Linked DNA regions of Homo sapiens: region 1 is linked to region 2. A link means that fine-mapping ties the variant in region 2 to the expression of a gene that starts in the linked region. Tissue or cell type: whole blood. Region 2 holds a variant in brackets; the other region holds the start of a gene. All regions are shown on one strand. Distances are between the middles of the regions.

Region 1 (9,599 bases), 38 kb before region 2:
TCCAAAAGAAGAAACTATAGAGAACAGATGTAACAAATAGGAAGATGATAGGTTAAAATTCAACCATATTGATAATTACATTAAATGTAAATGGTCTAAAACACTCTAATTAAAAGGAAGAGATTTGTCAGGCTGGATTAAAAAAAATCAGTACTACACTTCTTTTTTTTAGCATTTACAAGAAAGACAATCAAGGCCACAGTCATTAAGGTGTGGTAAGGGTTTTGCTGAAGATTTCACAGGAAGCCAGAACAAGAAGCCACAACAAATGCTCAGACTGCAGTTTTATCAGTGTTGTGCCCACTACCTATATACATCTCCTTTCTTCATGGCTCCCCTGGTGGGATGTGGGGATCATTTTGTGCCTCAAGCAGAGGCCAGCCTCACCCCCAGGCTCATCCCCACTCCAGGATCTTCCCCTCCATACATGCATCAGCTTCTCTCCTTCCTCACATAGGACAGCCTGGCCCTGTCCAGCCCAGGGGCTTCCAGCCCTATTCCAGCTCACTCAGCCAAGAAAGGGCTCATCAGAAACCAGAGATGTTAGAAGGCAGAGGGCAGTATAAATGATAACCAACATTTTTTTGGTCACCTTTACAAATTGCTGCTCCTGTGTGCAGCCTTATGGCTTCTCGTGGCCCATCACACACAGAAGTGTCACAGATAACACTTCATGTCAGTATCACACAAACTGACCTGTCTTCCCTGTGAGTCTCTTCTCTAAGCAGGTCACCTGCAGAGGTGGGGCAGTGCAGACAGAGACTTTCCTTATGGGGCCCAGCATGCAGCCAGGACCCCCTACCACACTACCATGTTCCAACAGCTGTGCCTGTGCCATGGGTCAGGCCAGTCCTGGGAGGGAGTCGGCTGTGGGCTGAGGCTGAAGTGTGCAGGTCCTGCATCTCTGTGTGGAAAAGCTGACTCCCAGGCTAAGGCTCACCCTGTCAGGGAAGGTGGGACTGCTTCTGCTTTGGGGAACACACGGTGCAGAAATGTGCTGGTGGCCAAGACCATGAGCCCACCATGTGGATGTGGCACAGGAGGACTTACTGCTCAGGGTGCAGGCATCTTGCTGCATGCATCCTCTGGCCTCAGCAGGGGTGGAAGAGAGAGTCCTTCACCAGGGCACCACCACCACTGCAGCCCCAGGCTGTCGTCTGAGGCCTATTCTGAGCCCAACACCAGAATGGTGGCATGAGGATGGATGTGGTCCCTGCCTTCATGGGGTGCACATCCCAACACCTCCCAAACAAGAAAACTAAGGAGCAACCCAGCTGAGGTCAGAACCAACAAGCTGCAGTGAGCACAGAGGGTGGGGCTGGGGGAGTGCCTGAGCGGGGGGCCCGGGGGAGGGCGGAGGGGGGCAGGGAAGCGTAGCGGGGATTCTGGCGAGGAGAGACAGGATCCCACTGGTGTTTTGTATGGCTCCCTTGGTCACTCTGCACAGAGGAGGGCAGGCTGGAGGGAAAGGCCAAGAGCTGGAGGTCAGCAAGGGGGTGCTGCAGGTGTCCAGGCAAGTGGGGATGGACAGCTGGGAAGTGGTCCAAGTAGAGAGGCAGGCGGAGCTGCTGCTGACGTGGAGGGTGAGGGAGAGGAGGGAGGCATTGGGGAGGCTCTCAGGGGTTTATTCATGGAGATGGGTGGGCGCCAGGGAGGAAGCAGGACTTCTGTTTGGGTCCCACTGAGTTTGGGGTGGCACAGTAAGAGGCAGCTGGACGCAGGAGTCTGAAGGCCCCTGAATCTGCATTCTGAGCCTCGGTTTCCTCATCTGCACTGGGCATGACGTCCTGCTCCATCCTCTCAGGGGCTGCCTGTGAGGTCCAGGCAGATCACAGCTGTCCTGGGCTCATGGCCTTGACCTGGAGTCATCAGGCTCTCTCACTCCAGCATCCTCCTCGACTCCAGCCCCATTCCACTTCCCCAGGATCCCCTTCCATCTGCTTCCGTCACACCCAGGCAGCAGCAAGAAGGGCATGCTGATGAGGGGCAGGACCACCTTGGCCAAGCCCATAGCAGGGGGTGGGCCAGCCCGGGAACCTCAGTGAATAGGGCAGCCAAGGGGAAGCCCAGGACCCTCCTCCCAGCCAAGGGGCTCCTGCATTTGCTGGGGTGTTCCATGAGCTCAGAAGAGAGCAGAGATGGCAGTGATTTCTCCCCACATGTCTGCTCCCAGATCCACTCATGCGCAGGCCTCGGTCCCACTGAGACAGTCCCTGTGGGTCAGGGTGGATTTTCCAGATGGCTTGGAGCTGGCGACCACACAACCGTGACAGTGATGGGGTGTGTCACAGGTATGACCTGATGGGGGAGCTTCACCACACAGATGGGGAGACAGAGGCTCAGGGAGGAAATGACCAGGCAAAGGTCACAGGCTGCATGTGAACTCCCACACCAGAGCAGCTGCCCTGGGCTCCGTGTTCTGGGAGGGGTAGGGCCGGGACTGTGCCTGGATGGTAATGTTGTGCAGAGCCAGAGCCAGCAGACTTGCGGTGTGGCACGAAGCCTCAGGGCACAGAGTGGGGGTTTAGCCAGCACCAGCGAGGGTCAGTCTGACTGTCCACATTCCTCCTTCTTGCCTGCGGGCTCTGCAGGGCACCACCCACTCTTGACCCTCAAATCCTCCCTGCCTCTGCTCAGGGCTCTGTCGGGGGTCCTGATGCCAAAGAAACTGAGATCCTCCCATGGCCCAGAGACCATGCTGTGGATGGGGGCAGTGCTTGGAGCCAGGAGCTTCAGTGTAGGGGGCACCAGGAAGATTTCGTCTCTCATTCCCTGCACCTGCCCCTAGGAAACCACTCCACCTGCATAAGCCCCACAGACCGCGGCAAGCTCCGTCTTAATGCAGACACTGGCAGTTCCTGCATGGCAGGATAGCGGCAGCATGCCACACTCCTCAGCACGCCACACTCCTCGGCGCGCCACGCTCCTCGGCTGCATTATCTTTGTCTGTGTGTAGAACCTTAGCAATAAAATGCACTTTCAACACTTTTCAGAGCCTTACGACTTACCACACACATACAGCTACTATGACATGAGAAAGAAGCAAAACAATGGGTCCCTTCTGGAAAGGGGGCCACTCCATGTGTGGCAGAGCTGTCTTGCTAGGGCAGTAATCCATGTGCTATTTCTGATGAAGACAGAAGAAGCACCCATCTCATGCAAGAGCACTTCTAATTTCTACCTGTGACTTGCAGGCAGTGTCAGAGGGAGGCACATTCATTCATTCAGACAACAAGCCTACTCTTGGTCAAGCGACAGGCTGGGGGCGGAGGAGCGCAGAGGTCACTGCAGTGGGATGGGGGCTGGAGGGTCCTGGCTGGGCCTGACATGGGAGTCTGAGTCCAGGGCCAGCAGACACGAGGCCCCTATAGACTGGAGCTGGACAAGGGCCAGAGCCAGGGGCCTCAGAAGAGGGTCCGCTCGGCCTGGGTGGGCGTGGGAGGCCCCAGGCAGGTCCACTTCCTTCAGAACAAATGCCTCCCTTCTTTCCACCTGGCTTCAGCCCTAACCTGCTGCCAAGCACCCCTTTCTCTCTCCCTGCTTGACCACAGAGTCCGCACAGTTACTTCAGGCAAGGTGTCCTGGGCAACGCAGCCTCAAGCCTCCTGCTGAGCAAACAGAAAGGTGAAGTGCACTGCAGGCACTGTGTCCACATCGGCAAATGGTTTTCAAATAATATCTTTGTTTCAGGAAAAAGCTCCGATGGAGATAAATGTTTTGTTAGCAGCCAGAAGGTTCATTTCTGACGAAACCCTAGTTCTCCTAGCAGATCTTCCCACGTTAGAGCTGTTTCCCCTAGTTGCTCTGGCAAGGGCAGATGTTTTTGGTGAGGCTGTTAAGTGGGTTAACCATTTTAATAATATTTTCACCTGTGACTGTGAGTGGGAAAGCTGAGCCTGGCCCAAATGCTTAAGGAGCCTCTTGAGTTCTGTTCGGATGGTGCCAATGTGAGTGTCCCATACCTCAAGTGGACAGGCCTCCTCCAGCTCGGGCCAACGCTGAGCACCATTCTGTCCTACCCACTTCGTACTTCCAGGAGTCAGTCCCGTTCCTCTGTCCAAGTCCCGGTCCAGAGGGACTTTCAGGGGGTAGCACCGACAGCATGGCTGCCCCTCCCACCAGTCAGGTCACCCAGTGCTGCCACCGAGGTGGGGAGGCCTTCCTGAGCAGGTGTGGAAAACGCAGTGGGCGCTGTGGATGGTGTTGGCAGTTGTGGGGTGGGAGGCGCACTAGAGGGCATGTGGTGGAGGAGGCCCTGTGGATGGAGGTGGGGAGGGATGATGACAACCATGCAGAGGATGTGGATGGTGACGACGGGAAGCTGGGGACCATGGGGAAGGTGGTGGTGGAGGCAGTGCTGCTGGTGGTGGGGTTGAAGGAGGTGGTGTTGACGGAGGAGTTGGCAGTACAGGTGGTGTTACTCCGGGCAGCACAGATGGCAGAGGCGATGTGGCTGGCAGTGGGTTGAGGCTGGAGGTGGGCGAGGGTATGAGAGGGCTGATGGTGGAGGTGGCCGTGGTGACGGAGCTGGAGGGGACTCTACTTGAGGCTGGCCCAGCAGTTTTCTAGATATGATCTGGGGTGTTTCAGGGAACCACCAGGTACCAGTGCACCGTGGCCTACTCAGGGCGAGTGCTCCATGCAGTTACCAGGTGCATTTCATTCCCTGGGCTGCCATAAGGGCTTGGCCTGGGGTCACACTCTGGGAGCCATGGAGACAGAACCGGCACTCGGGCCTGTTCCTTCAGCTGAGCTGAGCCTGCTGTCATGAGTCCCTGGCCCCAGGAGTCCCACTGGGAGTCCTGTTTGGAGAGTCTGAGCCTGAGCGGCCAGCCCCCAGACTGCGGAGAGGACGGCAGGGAGGGGCAAGCCTGTTGCTAGCCCGCCTAGGAGGGTCAGCGAAGAAGCAGGCCCTGCCCTGAGCGCCTGGGCAAGGGGTCCAGCCTCCTGGCTCTGGGCCGCACTGGCGTCCACGGGGGGCGGGGCTGAAATGGCCCAAGGAGGGGCTGCAACCTTCGCAGGCCCGGCGCCCCACTTGGGAAACTGAGGCCCGGGAAGCCCGTGCCCACGGCCACATTGCCATGTGTGAAAACCAGGGCAGTACCAGGACCCCTGCTCTCCCCTGGGAATCAGGCGCCGGGAAGACGCGCTCGGCAGGTCTGGCAGGGGCCGGGGCGCCGCGCTCCACTCGCCCCCGCCTCGGTGCCCGGCGGCTGCCGCCCCCGCCCCGCCCGCGCGCCTCTCCCGCGGGCCGCTGTCCGGCCTTGGCCGCCGAGGAGGAAGCGCTGTCCTCATTCCACCTCGGGCCGCCCCGGTGCCAAGTGGCTGGCGGCGGCGGCGGGAGTCCGGGCCCGGCGGGCAGCGGCCGGGGCGCAGCTCCCTCCCCTCCCGGGCGCCCCGCGAGCCCGGGGGTTACTCACGTAGAGTCCGGAGTGCTCGGCACCGAAGAACGGGAAGGGCACCGAGAGCGGCCGCAGCCCCGAGCCGCCGTCGTCCTGCTTGGGGGTGACGGCGTCGCCGCGCTCGGCGCCGAACGGGTAGAAGTCGGCAAGGGCCACCGCGCCGCGCACCCCGCGCGCCCCAAGCCCCAGGGCCGCGGCCACCAGCAGCGCCCAGGCGACGCCGTGCCGCATCGCGGAGGTGTGCGGGCGGGACGGGGCGCTGGCGGAGCAGGGCGCTGGGGGACTAGGCTGCGCGCGGGGGTGGCCGGCAGGGCCAGGCGGGGTGCGGGGAGCGCGGGCGCGCCCGCTGGCCGCGCCGTCGGGGGCTCCGCGTCCCGCGCCCGTTCGGCCGGGCCGCGCTCTCGCCGCAGCTCCGCAGAGGAAAGCGCCGGGCGGGACCGCGTTCGGGGCCAGCCCCGCCCCTGGGGCCACGATTTAAATATCCAGCCCGGCGGTCACTCGGGGGGGCGGGGCCATGCAAATCGGGCGTCTCTTAAAGCGCCAGGCCCCGTGGGAGGGCGCGGGCGCGCGGGGAGCTCAGTCCCCTGGCGTGGGCACAGGCAAGGTGAGGGCTCTGCGGGCGCGCGCCCTGTGGTGGGGCCATGCTCCGCCCTGGGTCCCTACCCTGGTGGAGGCGCCTGGGCCCTCAGTGCCGTCCTGGGACAGACCTGTGTCCCTAAGGCCTGAGACGCTGGGCCCGCCCTGAAGGCGTGTCATCACGCGGGGGGCGGGAGGGGACCCTGGCCAGGCAGTGCCTGAATGAACCCGTTCCGTGCTGCCCCCTTCCCAGCCCTGAGCATGGGGACGCCAGGCTTCCAGCCACAGGGGCAGACTAACCCCGGAGCCCACTCCCTGCCTGGGTCTGTGTGAGGAAGAGCCCGGGCCGGAGACTAGGAGGCATGGAACAAAGTGTTTGCATCTGCGTGGCCGCATCAGGAGAAATTCCTGGGAGGCTCGGGACCTCGGGGCGACCCCTGGGTAAAGCAAACCCTCCGTGGGGAAGACTGACCCACTCAGGCCCTGGGGGCAAGTGCGTGCATGACACCGGCCTTGGCAGGTGGGGGCAGGACTCTGAGTCCCAGTATTTGAATTCAGGGTCCCCACCCTGTGGCCTGCCAGCCCTGCCCCCTGTCTCTTGGGCTGCTGGCCTGGGCTGCCTGTCTGTCCTTCCTCAGGGCCTCAGCCGGGACCACCTCTATGTCCCCAGGCCCATGGCAGGGTCTGATTCCTGGAACTCACCCGGCCCACCGTGGTCTCTTCTCTTAGATCCTGGTGTTGGGTGGTGTTGGCTGCGTGCCACACTGGGGCCCCCAAAGATAAGAGTGCACCCCTCGAAGACAAGCAGGAAAGGCCGGGCTGATGGTAACTGCATCTACCACTGAGGTGCTGGGTGGTTTTTTGTTTGTCTTTGCGTTTGTATCTTCTGAAATATCTCAAGTGAGCACGTGTTGTTTTTCAGTGAGAGCCAGGCACAGTCAATGTTATTTTTAAGAAGCAGCGGAGGGTTCTCTGCGTGTGACTGGGTGTTGCCGGTTCTCACAGATCCTGCACTTGGTGTTTTCACTCAGAGGTTCATGACCCTTTAGACTTGGTGTCAGGGCCGGGTGCAGAATTGTTAAGGAGGAGCTGACCCTGCACTGGCACCTCCTGAAAGCTTGCCCCTGGCGCCTCTCCCACCCTGCATGGGGTGGCAATTCTGTTTGCAGAGAGGCAAACTGGGCCTGGGAGGGGAAGGGCTCTGTCCCGCAGTTAGCCCTTAGGTCACCGTCCCAGCTTTCAGAGCTCCAGGACAGCAGCACAGCCATGGTTCCAGGGCCAGAAAGGTCAAGGCCTCCTGTCTTTGGAGGGAGGCACCAGAGAGGGCGTGGAACTGTAGAATCCCTACTTGAGGCCGGCTCTCGGTGAGAGCCTGGCAAGGAGAGACATGTCTCCACGCACATGCACACACGTCCACGCACACATGCATACTTATTCACATGCACGGAGGCAGCATATGCCCATACGTGGGGCCTCAAGAACATGCTTTAACCCCTTCCTCAGCCCAGCCCTGGCCTCCCTGGTCAGGGAGGGCTGCTCCCACCTCTGGCTGGCACAGGCCGTGGAGTCAGGACAAGGCCCCATGTAGCAGCGTTGGGAACAGAGCTGCCAGGCGTCACCGTGGCGGGAATCAGGGAGAACGCTTTTCTATTTGTCTTTTTTCTAGAAAAACCTGGCAGCCCTCTACCCTCTTTTCAGTGCATTTGGGGCCTGGCTGGAAGGCCCCTCCGGTGAGTTTGCGAAGGTGGGAGGCGGCAGTGCCAACCCCAGGGCAGGATTTCTCCGCTGAAGAGGTGTTGTCATGGGGACGTGAGGCTTTGACCCCCACTAGGGCTGGCCCACCTCCTGCCCTGTCCCTACTACCCATCCACTTCCCACCACATGCTCCTGCTCTGCTCTCAGAGCCCAGCCTGGGGTGCTGCCTCCCAGCCAGCTGCCCAGGCCAGGCGCCCTTCTCCCCACTGCTGACCTTCTCTTGAGCACACAAGACAGGGACCTGGGTAACAACCCATTTCTGGGCTGGGTTTGGGTCAACTTGGGGGCAGGGCCGCCCAGGGCACCTTGGGGCACACAGTGGCACTCAGTGGCTGCACCGAGTGGAGGCCTGTTTCTTCAGGCGGGTGGGCTGGTGGGCCTCACGGGGGTCGCTGAGCAGTGCTGGAAACGCTCAGGCCCGTCCTCGTCCCAGAGAGTCAGAGCTCATGGGCCTGGGGCGTGGCTGGCAGTGGGCCAGACCCTGCTCATGGCCCAGAGAGGCCACACTTCCTCGGGCCTGTACCCTGCTGACCAGCCTCGGCCTGCACCCTGTGCAGATTTTCAGCCGGGCCCGGGGAGCTGGGGGTTAACAAAAGGCCCCGCTGCTGCTGGGCATTACATTTCATTAAAAAAAAAAAAAACAAAAAAAAAACAACACAACTCTGCAGGCAAAAAAGAGAAAAAAAAATGTTTTTCTCAGGTGCTAAAAATATTATCAGGAAATACTTTTCAGCAATGTGCTGTTTTAGGCTCCCCTCTGGACTCAAGGGCGCCTTTGTCTCTGCCACAGAAAATCCACATTTATCAAAACCAAAATTGTTTTATCAAGCAGGCTCATGTTCTGTGGCCAGGAAACCCGAGCCTCCCCAACCGGCCTGTGACATTTTAATTTAGGGCCTGAGCGTGTGTGCAATTTAGATGGGGTGCCCCGGGAGCTGCCCTCAGGATGCCCCAGGACTCGGGGCTCCACGCAGGCCAAGGTGGGGGTGCCCTCCCCAACCTGCACCTGGTTGGCTGGGCCTGTTTGGTCTTCACAGGGTGGAAGATCCTGGGGGTTCAGGCCTGAGCTGCCAGGGGCAGGGGCTGGCTGGCTGTAGCCCACCCTAACTTTCTCTCCTTCTCTCCCAGAAGTGGCAGGTGGAGTGCAGGTCCCCTGCCCCAGAAGCGCTGATCCCAAGTAAACCTCCACATGCTCCGGAATGAGGCCAGGAGGTCACAGGGACCAAGGGCCGCTCCACCTGCTCACCTGGTCACTGTCCTGTGTGGCTGGTTGGGGTCTTGGTGCAGTTGGCCCTGAGGGAGTGTGGGGGCCATGCAGCCTGCCCTGTACCTCCTCTTCTCATGCACACGGAGCCGCACACACATTGACTCCCATGACGGGACTTCTGTGGTTGCTCTTAGGGAAACGATGGGACTGGGGTTCAACACTTCCTTCCCAGGATGTTCACTGCTGCGTGGGCTCAGGCATCGGCTCTCCCTGTCCTGGGGATGACGAGACCCTGCCTCCCGTTGAGAGCCTTGTCCATCTCCTGAGTGCCCAAGACAGGACAGAGCCCCATTCTCTGTGGGCTCCAGGATGGCAGGGACAGCCAGCAGTGGAGGGACACTCAGGCCCAGGGTCCTCCGATGCCCCGGAGCTTCCGCAGCAAAAAAACCATGCTCTGAGACGTTTTTAGTGATTCGGGAAAACTCTAACGGTATTGTGTCAAGCAAAAGTTTTAAAAAATAGTACTCTGAGTAGCATCCACGCTATGGCCTCAACCGTCCTAAGCACACGTGTGCTAGAAAAAGGGAGAGTTGGGTGTCACCTCGGGGCTCTGCAGGTCACAGATTATGGTGGTGGTTACATTCTCCTTTCTATGTTTC
Region 2 (9,599 bases):
CGGATGGATGGACAGCAGGTGTTCTTCCCAGAGACCCCCGGGGGGTGCCGCCGTGGGCGGGAGGACCCCAGCCCCCATTACCCGCTCCCGCTGGGCTTCCCGGAGCTTCTGCACAAAGTCCCGCAGGATGTCCTGCACGGTGGCCACATCCATGAGCTCTGAGCTGCGGCCTCCGGGTGTGGGCGAGGGCCATCGGAGGGGCGAGTGGGGCCTGGCTGGGGGGCTGGTACCCTGTTGCCCAGGGAGAGCCTGGGAGCTGTCGGAGCCTGCGGGAGGTGACAGCGGAGGGGTCGTGGACAGGAACACAGTGACAGATACACGCCCTTCCCCTTTCCTCTCTGCTGCCCCAGCCATGGGAGGTTGGGGAGACGGCCACAGGTTCCTACAATTGCCTGTCCGAGTCCCTCACTGTGTGAGTTGTGAGGCCTGAAAGAGAGGTGCCAGGCCAGGGACTGAGCTGGGAGAGGGGCCCGCCTGCCTCCACTGAGGACTCTGACCTTTGGTGGGGGAACCAGGCTGCTCCGGGGAGGCCCACGGGCTCTGTCTCTGGAGCCCCAGGCCACGGCGGAGCGTGGAGCACAGCCGGCCCAGCTGGGCCTCCGCATCCTGCCTTGCACCCTCAGCCTGGGCCAGCTCCTGCTCCAGGCTGTGGATTCGGTGACAGGCCTGGTCCAGGCGAGCCTGGAGAGCATCAGCCACACCACTGGCTTCCTGCAGCTTCCTGGTGACACTGTGCAGCTCTGCTCGGAGGGTCTGCTCAGCCCCCCGGCTCTCACGGAGGTGCTCCTGGAGCCGCTGTCCATGGGCCTCCCCTGCGGCCTCCACCTCTGCCAACTTCCTCTGCAATCCCAGGACCTGTAGGAGGGATGTTGGGGTGCGCCCGTGGGAGACAGTGAGGAAGTGGGGTGGGCCTCCTCCCTCTGCTCCCCGACGCCCAGCTCCTTCCCTTCTGACCACAGGCAGCCCTCCCACCTCCTTCCGGGCACCCTCGTGCTTGGCCTCTGCCTTGGCTGCCTGCCTCCGCAGCTCCAGCACCTCCTGCGAGCACTGCGCCTGCAGCTCATGGGCCTCTCCACTCCTCCTCTGGTTCTCGGCCTTCAGTGTCCTCACCTGGGAGCGTGGGGCCGCACGGACAGGGTCACTGGTCTCTGTGCTGGAACCCAGGCAGCCTCCCTGCCTCCTGCCTCCGCTCACACGTCCCTTGAGGGCAGCTGGCCACACTTAGGGAGGCTTGGGCTAAGGTGCCCCAAAGGACCTTGCCCTGGGAGTTGTCACCCTCAGCCACTCTGTAGACACCTACCTGGGACCTCCTCGGAACCTCCTTGGAGGACCTGGGACAAGGAGGAGGCTCAGGTGGGGCGGGGTGGGCACTGATTAGGGAGTGTGGGCAGTGGCTGGGGTGCATTGGACCCAACTGCCCCGAGGCCGCCATTACAGGAGGGAGCCAGGCCTTGGGGGGACCCGGCTTGCCAGCACCCTGCCCTGCAGAGGCCAGGCCTCCCCTCTAGCCTGCCTGAGTTCCCGAGCGCCACCGGAAGGTGTTGCATGTAGGATACTTCCGTGTGCTGCTGTGCATGCCGGAAGGTGTTGCATGTAGGATACTTCCGTGTGCTGCTGGGCATGGTTCCCTTCCTCCTCGCTAAAGCATTCCTGGTTTTGCCCTCTCCAGTCTTGTCATCTGTGCCCCATGGGGACAGACCCAACCAGGGACCCTGTGAGCCTGAGCAGGGCGTGGCCCAAAGTCTGGGGACAGAGTGGTTCAAAGGCGGCAGCAAGGCCAGGGCTGGGGGCTCCCCTGGGAGGAGCCGGGACCCACCAGGCGGGAGGGTGCCTGGTTGGATGTTGACCCCTCCCTGCCGCCCTACCTGTCTGTGGAGTTCCCGGAGCTCCTGACGGGCGTCCCCCCCTGCCTGCTCCAGCTCCCACAGGTGGGCCCGCAGTGCACTGGCCTCCTGCTGCAACGCCGCCTGGGCCTCCTCCAGGATGAGCAGCTTCTGCTCCTTCTCCTCCTTGGACCGCTTAAAACTGACGAGGGTGCCACAGGCTGGGGCCCCCGCACCTCCTGGTGGGGCCAGCACAGCTGCCCAGCAGGTCTCTGCCTCCCCTAGTGAGGCACTGGCCCCAGTCTTGACTCTGCACAGTGTCCTCAAACTCAGCCTCTGCAGGGTTCCCTGTCACCTTACAGACATATGTCCACCCAGGTCCCGGTGCCGGCCGCATGGCCCCTGTCCACTATCCACCTCTTCAGCCCCTCCTCACCTCATCCCTCCCTGTCTCCCCCTCTCTGTCACACTCCCGGACGCTCAACATCCAGCCTAGCCTGGTACCTCTGCCACCTGCTGTGAGGGCTGTGCCATCCTGCCCAGCTGCCCCACAGGGGCCTTTCTAGAGCCCCAGCCAGGCCGTTGGCCTCCCTCTGCTCCCCAGCTCTGCACCACCTCCTGGAGGCCACCTGTGACCTATCTTGCCTGCTGGATGGGAACTCCCTGTGGGCAGGGACAGGTGTGTCCATGTCCTCAGCCATCCCTCGCACTGGCCAGCATTGCAGACCTCTTGGACTGGGCAGCGGGAGGCCTGCTTGGCATGTCTACCCCACCATCAGTGGGGCCCAAGTCAACAGGACGCCCCTGCCTAGCCCCCTTGCCCCATCCTCCCTACGGCCTGGGTGGGCAGCAGGCTGCAGGGCACCCCCAGCTGCTCCTGGGTGGCCGCCATACCTGGCCTTCTCCTGTTCGGCCCTGCAGATGGTGGCCCGCAGCTCGCTGTTGAAAAGCAACAGTACGTCCTTCTCGCGGGCCTCGTCACTCAGCGCCCGGCGGGCCTCCTGGGCCTCCCTGTGCAGCCCCTCCCGGCTCTCCTCGACGCCCTGCAGCTCCTGGCGCAGTGCGGCCAGTCCCTCCTGGGCCACGGTCAGCTGTGCCCGCAGCCTCTCAGCCTGGGGAGGACCATTCAGCTCTAGAGGCCCGCTGGGGACCACTGCTCCAGGGATAGCCACAGGGGCCTGTGGCCTCTGACATGGTGTGGCAGGCACAGGTGCCCTGCCCAACTTGGTCCCCATGCGCTTTGCTCACCCCATGGAGCCACCAATCCCTAGTGCTGCGGAGGCTGCAGGGCGGCTTCCACGGGCTGAGGCAGGGCCAGCCTAAGAGCCCAGAAGACCCCACCTTGAGCCCCTGGGCCCGGCCCCACGCTGCGGCCTCTCTGGACCCCCAGGACGCTGACCACTGGTAAGCAAGGCCTACCTGGGATGCGGCTCAGCACACGTGTCTGCACTGTCACTGCCTGGGGCCCTTCCCACCTCCTGCCCCCGGCGTCTAGTCCTCTCCTTAGGTGACAGTGTGGTGCCCAGGCCGCTGCCTGTCCTAGTGTGGGCAGCAGCCTCAGCAGGCAGGCTGGGCCTGACCCTGGCACAGTGACCCTGGCCCAGTGACCCCGGCACAGTGACTCTGCCACAGTGGGGGCTCACCCACTCCCTTGGCCTTCCTTCCCCCGTTGGCATGGGAGGCAGTGGGAGGAGGATCTCTGGCAATGGGGGGGCAGTGGGAGGAGGGTCTTGGTTTCCCGCTCCGGACACCAGGCATCTCACAGTGCCCGGGAGAACCCAGGGGTGGGGTCCGGAGGACAGTTGCAGCCTGGCAGGAAGGCCCTCCCCAGCACCTACGCTCTGGGGGTGGGGACTTGCTGGGGCTCGGCCCTGGCGCCCAGTCTCCTGCCTCCCAGGTCTGAGCTCTGGGCCTGACCAGAAACCCTGGAGAAGGCTCCATTCCGGCTCTCGTGTGTCCCAGAGGAGGAGGCGGAGGTAGCCAGCGGGGCATGCCCAGAGATGGAAGCCACAAAGACTCCGCGATGTCAAGTCGCTGGCTTGACAAAAGCAAACCCCTCTTTCTGGCTGTTTTCACGGGATATTGTCCAGGCCCCCGACCGGCCTGGCTCCCGAGGCTGCCGCTGTTATTGTTGTTCTGTTTTTGGGAAGGGCCAGAGCCTCCCCTCCGCTCCCCTCCACCCCCACACGTGGGAGCCATGACCGTGCTGAGCATTTTCCGCCGAGCTCAGCAGAAACCCGCCCAGAAGGTCAAGGACCAGCAAAAGGGCCCATGCATCATAAAAGAAACTGTTTTCATTTCCCAGCGCAGAGGAGATGAAAACAAGCAAAACAAATGCAGGGGAGGGCCTGCCCCCACTCCCGCCCCCACCCCACCCGCTCCCTCTGCCTCATGAGAACAGCCATCCCTTTTACAGGAATTTTACGGCCAAATCACTTAATGTGATTATAATAATTATTTCTTTGCTAGAAATTGTATAAACAGCCTCTTTTAAAAATCTCCTACAGGGAGGCAGCTCCAGAGCTCTGCAGGGAGGAGGGGCTGTGGAGGGAAAGCAGGGGAGGGTGAGAGTGTGTGTGTGTGTGTGAGTGTGAGTGCGTGTGAGTGTGAGTGTATGTGTGTGCGCGTGTGTGCGTGCGTGTGTGTGTGTGTGTGTGGGTGATGAGTGTGTGTGTGGGCCGGTGCAAGTGTCCTCTCTGTACGTGGTGTGCATACGTGTGTGTGCATGCATGTGTGTGCACGTCCGTATGCCTGTGCATGCACTACGTGTGTGTGTACATGTGTGTGATGAGCATGTGTGATGAGTGTGTGCGTGTGTGTCATGAGTGTATGTGTGCGTGCGTGTGTGTGAGTGTATGTGAGTGTATGTGTGAGTGCGTGTGTGTGATGAGTGTGTGTGTGTGAGAGCCAGTGCAGGTGTCCACTCTGTACGTGGTGTGCATACGTGTGTGTGCATGCATGTGTGTGCACGTCCGTATGCCTGTGCATGCACTACGTGTGTGTGTACGTGTGTGTGATGAGCGTGTGTGATGAGCGTGTGCATGTGTCATGAGTGTATGTGTGAGTGCGTGTGTGTGTGTGAGTGTATGTGTGATGAGTGTGTGAGTGTGATGAGTGTGTGTGTGTGAGCCAGTGCAGGTGTCCACTCTGTATGTGGTGTGCATACGTGTGTGCATGTATGTGTGTGCACGTCTGTATGCCTGTGCATGCACTACGTATGTGCATGTGTGCGCACACATGCGTGTGTGTGCTTGGTGCACGTTTCTGTGCACGCCTGTGTGCACTGTGTGGTGTCCATATGTGATTCCAGCGTGAGTGTGTGTGAGTGTGTGAGGCTTGTGTGTCTGCATTCAGCATGCACACACCACTCTGAGTGTCAAGTGTACACCGGTGTGTGTGGTCTCACTGCGTGGATGATGTGTATGCATGTGTGTGCACACGTGTGGACCTCAGGCAGGGTCTGAGAGACTGGAAGTTCCTCCAGTTTAAAGGTTGTGAAAAAGTTATGGTTTCCATGGTGACCCTGGGCCAGCCTGGCGCCTGCACGGGCTCTGCTTGCTTTTCTCTGTGATTGTTCCTCTTGTCCCCCTTAACCGTCCTCAGCTTTTAGCCCCCACTCCCTTTCTGGGCACCCTGCTCTGTTCTGCTCCTCTGAGAGCCTGACCTTCCCATGAGGCCTGCACTCCCTTCCTTGAGGCCAGCAGAACCAATGCACCCCCACCCTCTCCACACCTCCCCCTCCCCCTCCCCCTGCTGCCCCCAGTTTTGCAATCTCGTTTTGCTTCCCCGTGTGGTCGCTGACC[G/A]GGCCTGACTTTGAAATCTGTTGAAAGGAGACCTTTCTCCTTGGGGCCAATGTAAACAGCCGGTCATGTTAAATCATGTTCTCTTCCTCTCTCAGCCTGCCTCTCGGGGGTGCTTGGGGAGGGCTGAGCCCCTCTTCTCACTCTCCCCTGCCGGCCGGCCCGGCCTCTGGGGCGTGGTGTGCGCCAGCCGCTCGCTCCAGCACCAGGTCAGCTGCGCAGCCTCCAGCCTTGGCAAGCAGCCCAGGGAGTGTGCGAGGTCGCCCCGTCCCCGTGGGCCCCGCTGGGGCTCCAGCTGACCCTCCCCTCCTCTAGCCCAGATCCGCGTGCCCTCCTGCCCTTGCCACACACAGGCGTCCCCCCGTCCTGCCAACCCCCCTCAGAAATGCCTCTCCAATCTGCCTGCCCGCTGAGCCCAGGTGAGCCTAGCCCTGGCCACTCTTGCCCCCTGCCCAAGACTGTCCCCCACCCCACGTCACCATCATGTGGCTCCTGGGGGCCTCCGTGTCAACCTCGGGCCCTTGGCCAGGCCCAGGCACACCCCGAAATCTCCACTAACCCACTTATTTTCTTGCCTGCTGCCCCAAATCCAGCCTCCCCCGACCTTAGTGTCCAGCCCAGTGAAGTCCGCGCCTCCTGCTGTGTGGGCAGAGCCCAGCTTGTCTAGGGCCTCCCCGTGCCTCAGTGGATGGCTCGATGGGCCTCTTGGCCAAGGGTCCGAATTCCCCTTCGCCCCAGGTCATGCCTGTCTCTCGGGAAGGCTTTGGGAGGCGACAGCTGCCCCAGTGCCTCCAGAGTCAGGCCCTTCCTGACTCCACTTTCTTAACTGTGCGTGGAACGAGGGGGCCGGCTGGACTCCTGGAGCCTTTGGCTGCGTGGCTCTGGCCACCCTTTCACATGCTGGCCCTCCCAGCGGCAGGTGTGCCCCTCCAGTGCCCTGGGAGCTGGCAGGTGTGCTGTGCACCTTCCCAGGACAAGCAGGGCAGCAGGAGCCGCGTCGGGACCCACGGCAGCCTCCAGGGAGCTCCCTTCCCACTCAGCTGGCACCGTGACCCAGCCAAGTCCACCTGACTCAGCCAGGCCCACTTTCACCCTGAAGTCAAACTCACCCCTTCAGGAGGCTTAGAAATGATGCCTTCTTTCCCCTGAAAACTGGTGTCAGCTTCCCTTAGCCAATGGCCTGGGCCAGGCACCATTTCATCTGCCCTGAGAGCCTGGGCTTGGCTTAGTGCGTGGTGTGAGGGCCCCTTGTCCCATGCCCCTATGGCTGTTTGCCTCTTCCTAGTCCCAGGGACTACTCTTCCCTTCTCTGTGGTACAGCCTCTCTTTCCTCCTGGCACCCCCACTCTCTCCTCTCTTGGTACCTGCCCTGCTTTCTCCTGTCCTCTGGCATCCCCAGGAGCCCCCCAGCCCTGCCTCTCACCTCTCTCTCCACATCGCCCCGCTCAGCCGCTAGGTCCTGGAGGCTCTCGCGTAGGGCCGTGGTCTCCCTCTGATGGGCTGTGATGGCATCCTCAAACTGGGCCTGGAGGGCCTTCAGCTCCTCAGTCGTGGCACTGATGGTGGCCTGCGGGGAGAAGGGAGCCCACGGTGGCACCAGGGAGCTGGGCCCAGCAGTGGAGGGTGAGGTAAGGCCAGGACCCTGGAGAGAGAGGTGTTGCAGTGGCCTGGGAGGGGGAGCCGGGTCCTGCTGATCGTGCAAGCCCCGGGGTAACTGGCCCTTGGTTTCCTAAACTGTCAAACAGGCTGCTGGGATGAGGAGACATCCACGGCCCCTGACAGCTGTGATGTGTGAGTGCCCACGGACACAGCAGGAGGCAGCCCCTCAGCTCAGCCTGCGCCCTGGGGCAGGGCCCATCCCTACAGGGACCACCACACACTGGGCAGCTCTACCCTCCATTTGGGACTGAGCTCAGCTGGAGTCGGCTCCCTGTCGCACACACCACCCGAGGTGTCCTCTCGGGCCTTGGGGCAGTGTGGCCAGCAGGGATCCTCGGGCCAGGAGGCCCCAGGCTCAGCCCATGGCCCCTTGTTCATGGACAAATACCACCTTCTTCACCCCAAGCCCCAGGCCCCTCGGGACACCACCCCGCTTCCTCTCAAGGCCCTCCCCACTGCACCCCTGCCCAGGTTGCGGCAGCAGGGCAGATGGGGCTCAGGGGGTCTCAGCTTCCTGGGCCTCAGTGTCCTCAACATGAAGGGTCCGAGCCCTGCCCTGCTCAGGCTCTGCACCCCTGGGTTCAGGGGACTGGACCAAGCCTCCAGGCAGCAGCAGGCGGCTGGCGGGGGGCGGCTGGTGGGGGATGGCTCCCTCCAGAGCTGGCTTTGTGTTCCTGGGGGCACAGGTGCCCACATGGCTGCCCCTGTGCCAGATCTCTGGAGCCCCTCCTGTCCACCTGGATTCTGCTAGGGTGGGGGTTCCTGCAGCCTGTGCCCCCTGCTCTTGGGAAAGGAGCCATGCTGCTGCCTCCTGTCGTCATTCTTTACAACCCCCTCTGGTCTCTCTGGACTGAGAAGGGCCATCTTGGGTGACTAGGCCATGGCTCTGTGCCTCAGCATGCCCCAACACTGCCAGTGATGGGTGCCCCTGAGGCCTGGCTGCAGGATACCCCTGTGAGGGCCTCAGGGACAGGGCATCGGCTGGGAGCCCGATGGCAGTGGTGACTCAGCCTAGGGGCGCACGCTGTCCTGTCATCTGGCGCCTGGTGCTCCTTGGCCGGCATTCCTCTCCTCCCGCTCCTCTCAACAGTTTTAATTTCCATTTTCTGAGCCGAGGTGGCAAAGGAACCCTTAACGAGCTCCCCAGGAAGGCCGGCTGGCTGGCAGGCCTGGTACCGAGTCCGGGGGAGACTCAGGGCCAGCTCAAGAGAAGGCTCCAGAAGCCAGCACTGGCTCCAGAGAAGGCCCCTCTGTGAGCCAGAGGCATCAGCTCCCAGGGCCCCAGGAGGGCTTTCCTGGGTCCCTGCCCACGGGGTGGAGCCAAGAGAGCTGCTGGGCCAGTGGTCGGGAGGAGGGAGGGGCATGGTCACAGGCCCGATGCCAAGCTTGGTCCTCCTGGGCCCCGTGGAACCCTCCAGGCCTCAGGGGCAGGAACAGAGCAGGGTGGGGCTTCATGGAGTGAGGGGCAAGTCTCCCCTGGGCTGCCAGGAGCTCCTCTGGGCAGCCCTGCTTGAAGGGACTAGGAGTCCGGGTTGTGGCATCAGGCAGGAGGAGGTGAAGCGACACTCCAGCAGCCGCCTCCTCATTGCAGCGCCCTCTCCCGCTGCGCAGTGCCCTGGGGATGGGGCACAAGCCCTCCATCCCGGCTCCGAGTCACCGAGCGTCCCCCAAGGCCCCGCTGCCTGGACGCCCCGGCCCCCCAGCAGGCGGCCTGCGCGTGCCTCTGTGCAGTCAGTGAGAAGGGCTCCCGTTCAGAATGGGCAGAGAAGGGGGCTGCCTCCCGCGCCTGGCACCATGGCCTGTGTTCTGTTCACTGCACACTGAACCATACATTCAACGCCAGTCAGGTAGGTGTCCAACCCTGCGTCCTTGCCAGGGACAGGGAGGAAAGGCTCGCCTGAATTTAAAATAAGCCAACAAGTACGGGAATGAACGGCCTCGTCACTGAACATGCTGGGAGCTGGAAGGACAGAGGCAGGAGGCAGGTGTGGGCCCAGCTAATGGGGTGTGTGTGGCCAGGGAGGGCAGAGAGCTGGGGGTTGGCGATCAGCCTCGCCCTCAATCCTACCTGTTCCTGGCAAGGAGAGGAGTGGCGTCCGGTGCCTTGAGCCCATTCCCTCCCTGCCCAGGGCACCCTCGCACCTGTGTCTATTCAGGGCCAGCCCCTGCCACCCAGGACAGCAGCCCCGACCTCAACACAAACAGCCTCTCCTCAGGCCGCCTGGGCCCTTGGAGATCCTGCTGTAACTCCTGCATCTATGTCCTATCGCTGGGCTCTGGCCACCCCCCACTGTGAGCCAGGCCCCCATCTATGTCC

The links. PIP is the estimated chance that this variant, and not a neighbour inherited with it, causes the effect.
Region 1: it holds the start of SNED1, and the variant in region 2 is fine-mapped to the expression of SNED1 in whole blood (TOPMed, PIP 0.98).

The regions. Positions count from the first base shown.
Region 1 is chr2:240,994,872-241,004,470 of GRCh38, reverse strand. It overlaps SNED1 (sushi, nidogen and EGF like domains 1), which reads right to left and starts at 5,853. Exons shown (of 32, transcript NM_001080437.3): 1 at 5,421-5,853. The coding sequence starts at 5,633. RefSeq lists a silencer at 5,802-6,221.
Region 2 is chr2:240,956,892-240,966,490 of GRCh38, reverse strand. CROCC2 (ciliary rootlet coiled-coil, rootletin family member 2) reads right to left here. Exons shown (of 32, transcript NM_001351305.2): 20 at 7,047-7,190; 21 at 2,718-2,935; 22 at 1,866-2,025; 23 at 973-1,110; 24 at 498-855; 25 at 82-266. UICLM (up-regulated in colorectal cancer liver metastasis) reads left to right here. Exons shown (of 9, transcript NR_033841.1): 2 at 2,315-2,502; 3 at 2,745-3,227; 4 at 7,073-7,251; 5 at 7,369-7,414; 6 at 8,874-9,129. Among named protein-coding and RNA genes, the nearest start is that of UICLM, 5.8 kb to the left of the region's middle. RefSeq lists enhancers at 3,021-3,871, 3,872-4,723, 7,908-8,477. The variant G/A (reference allele first, on the strand shown) is at 5,627.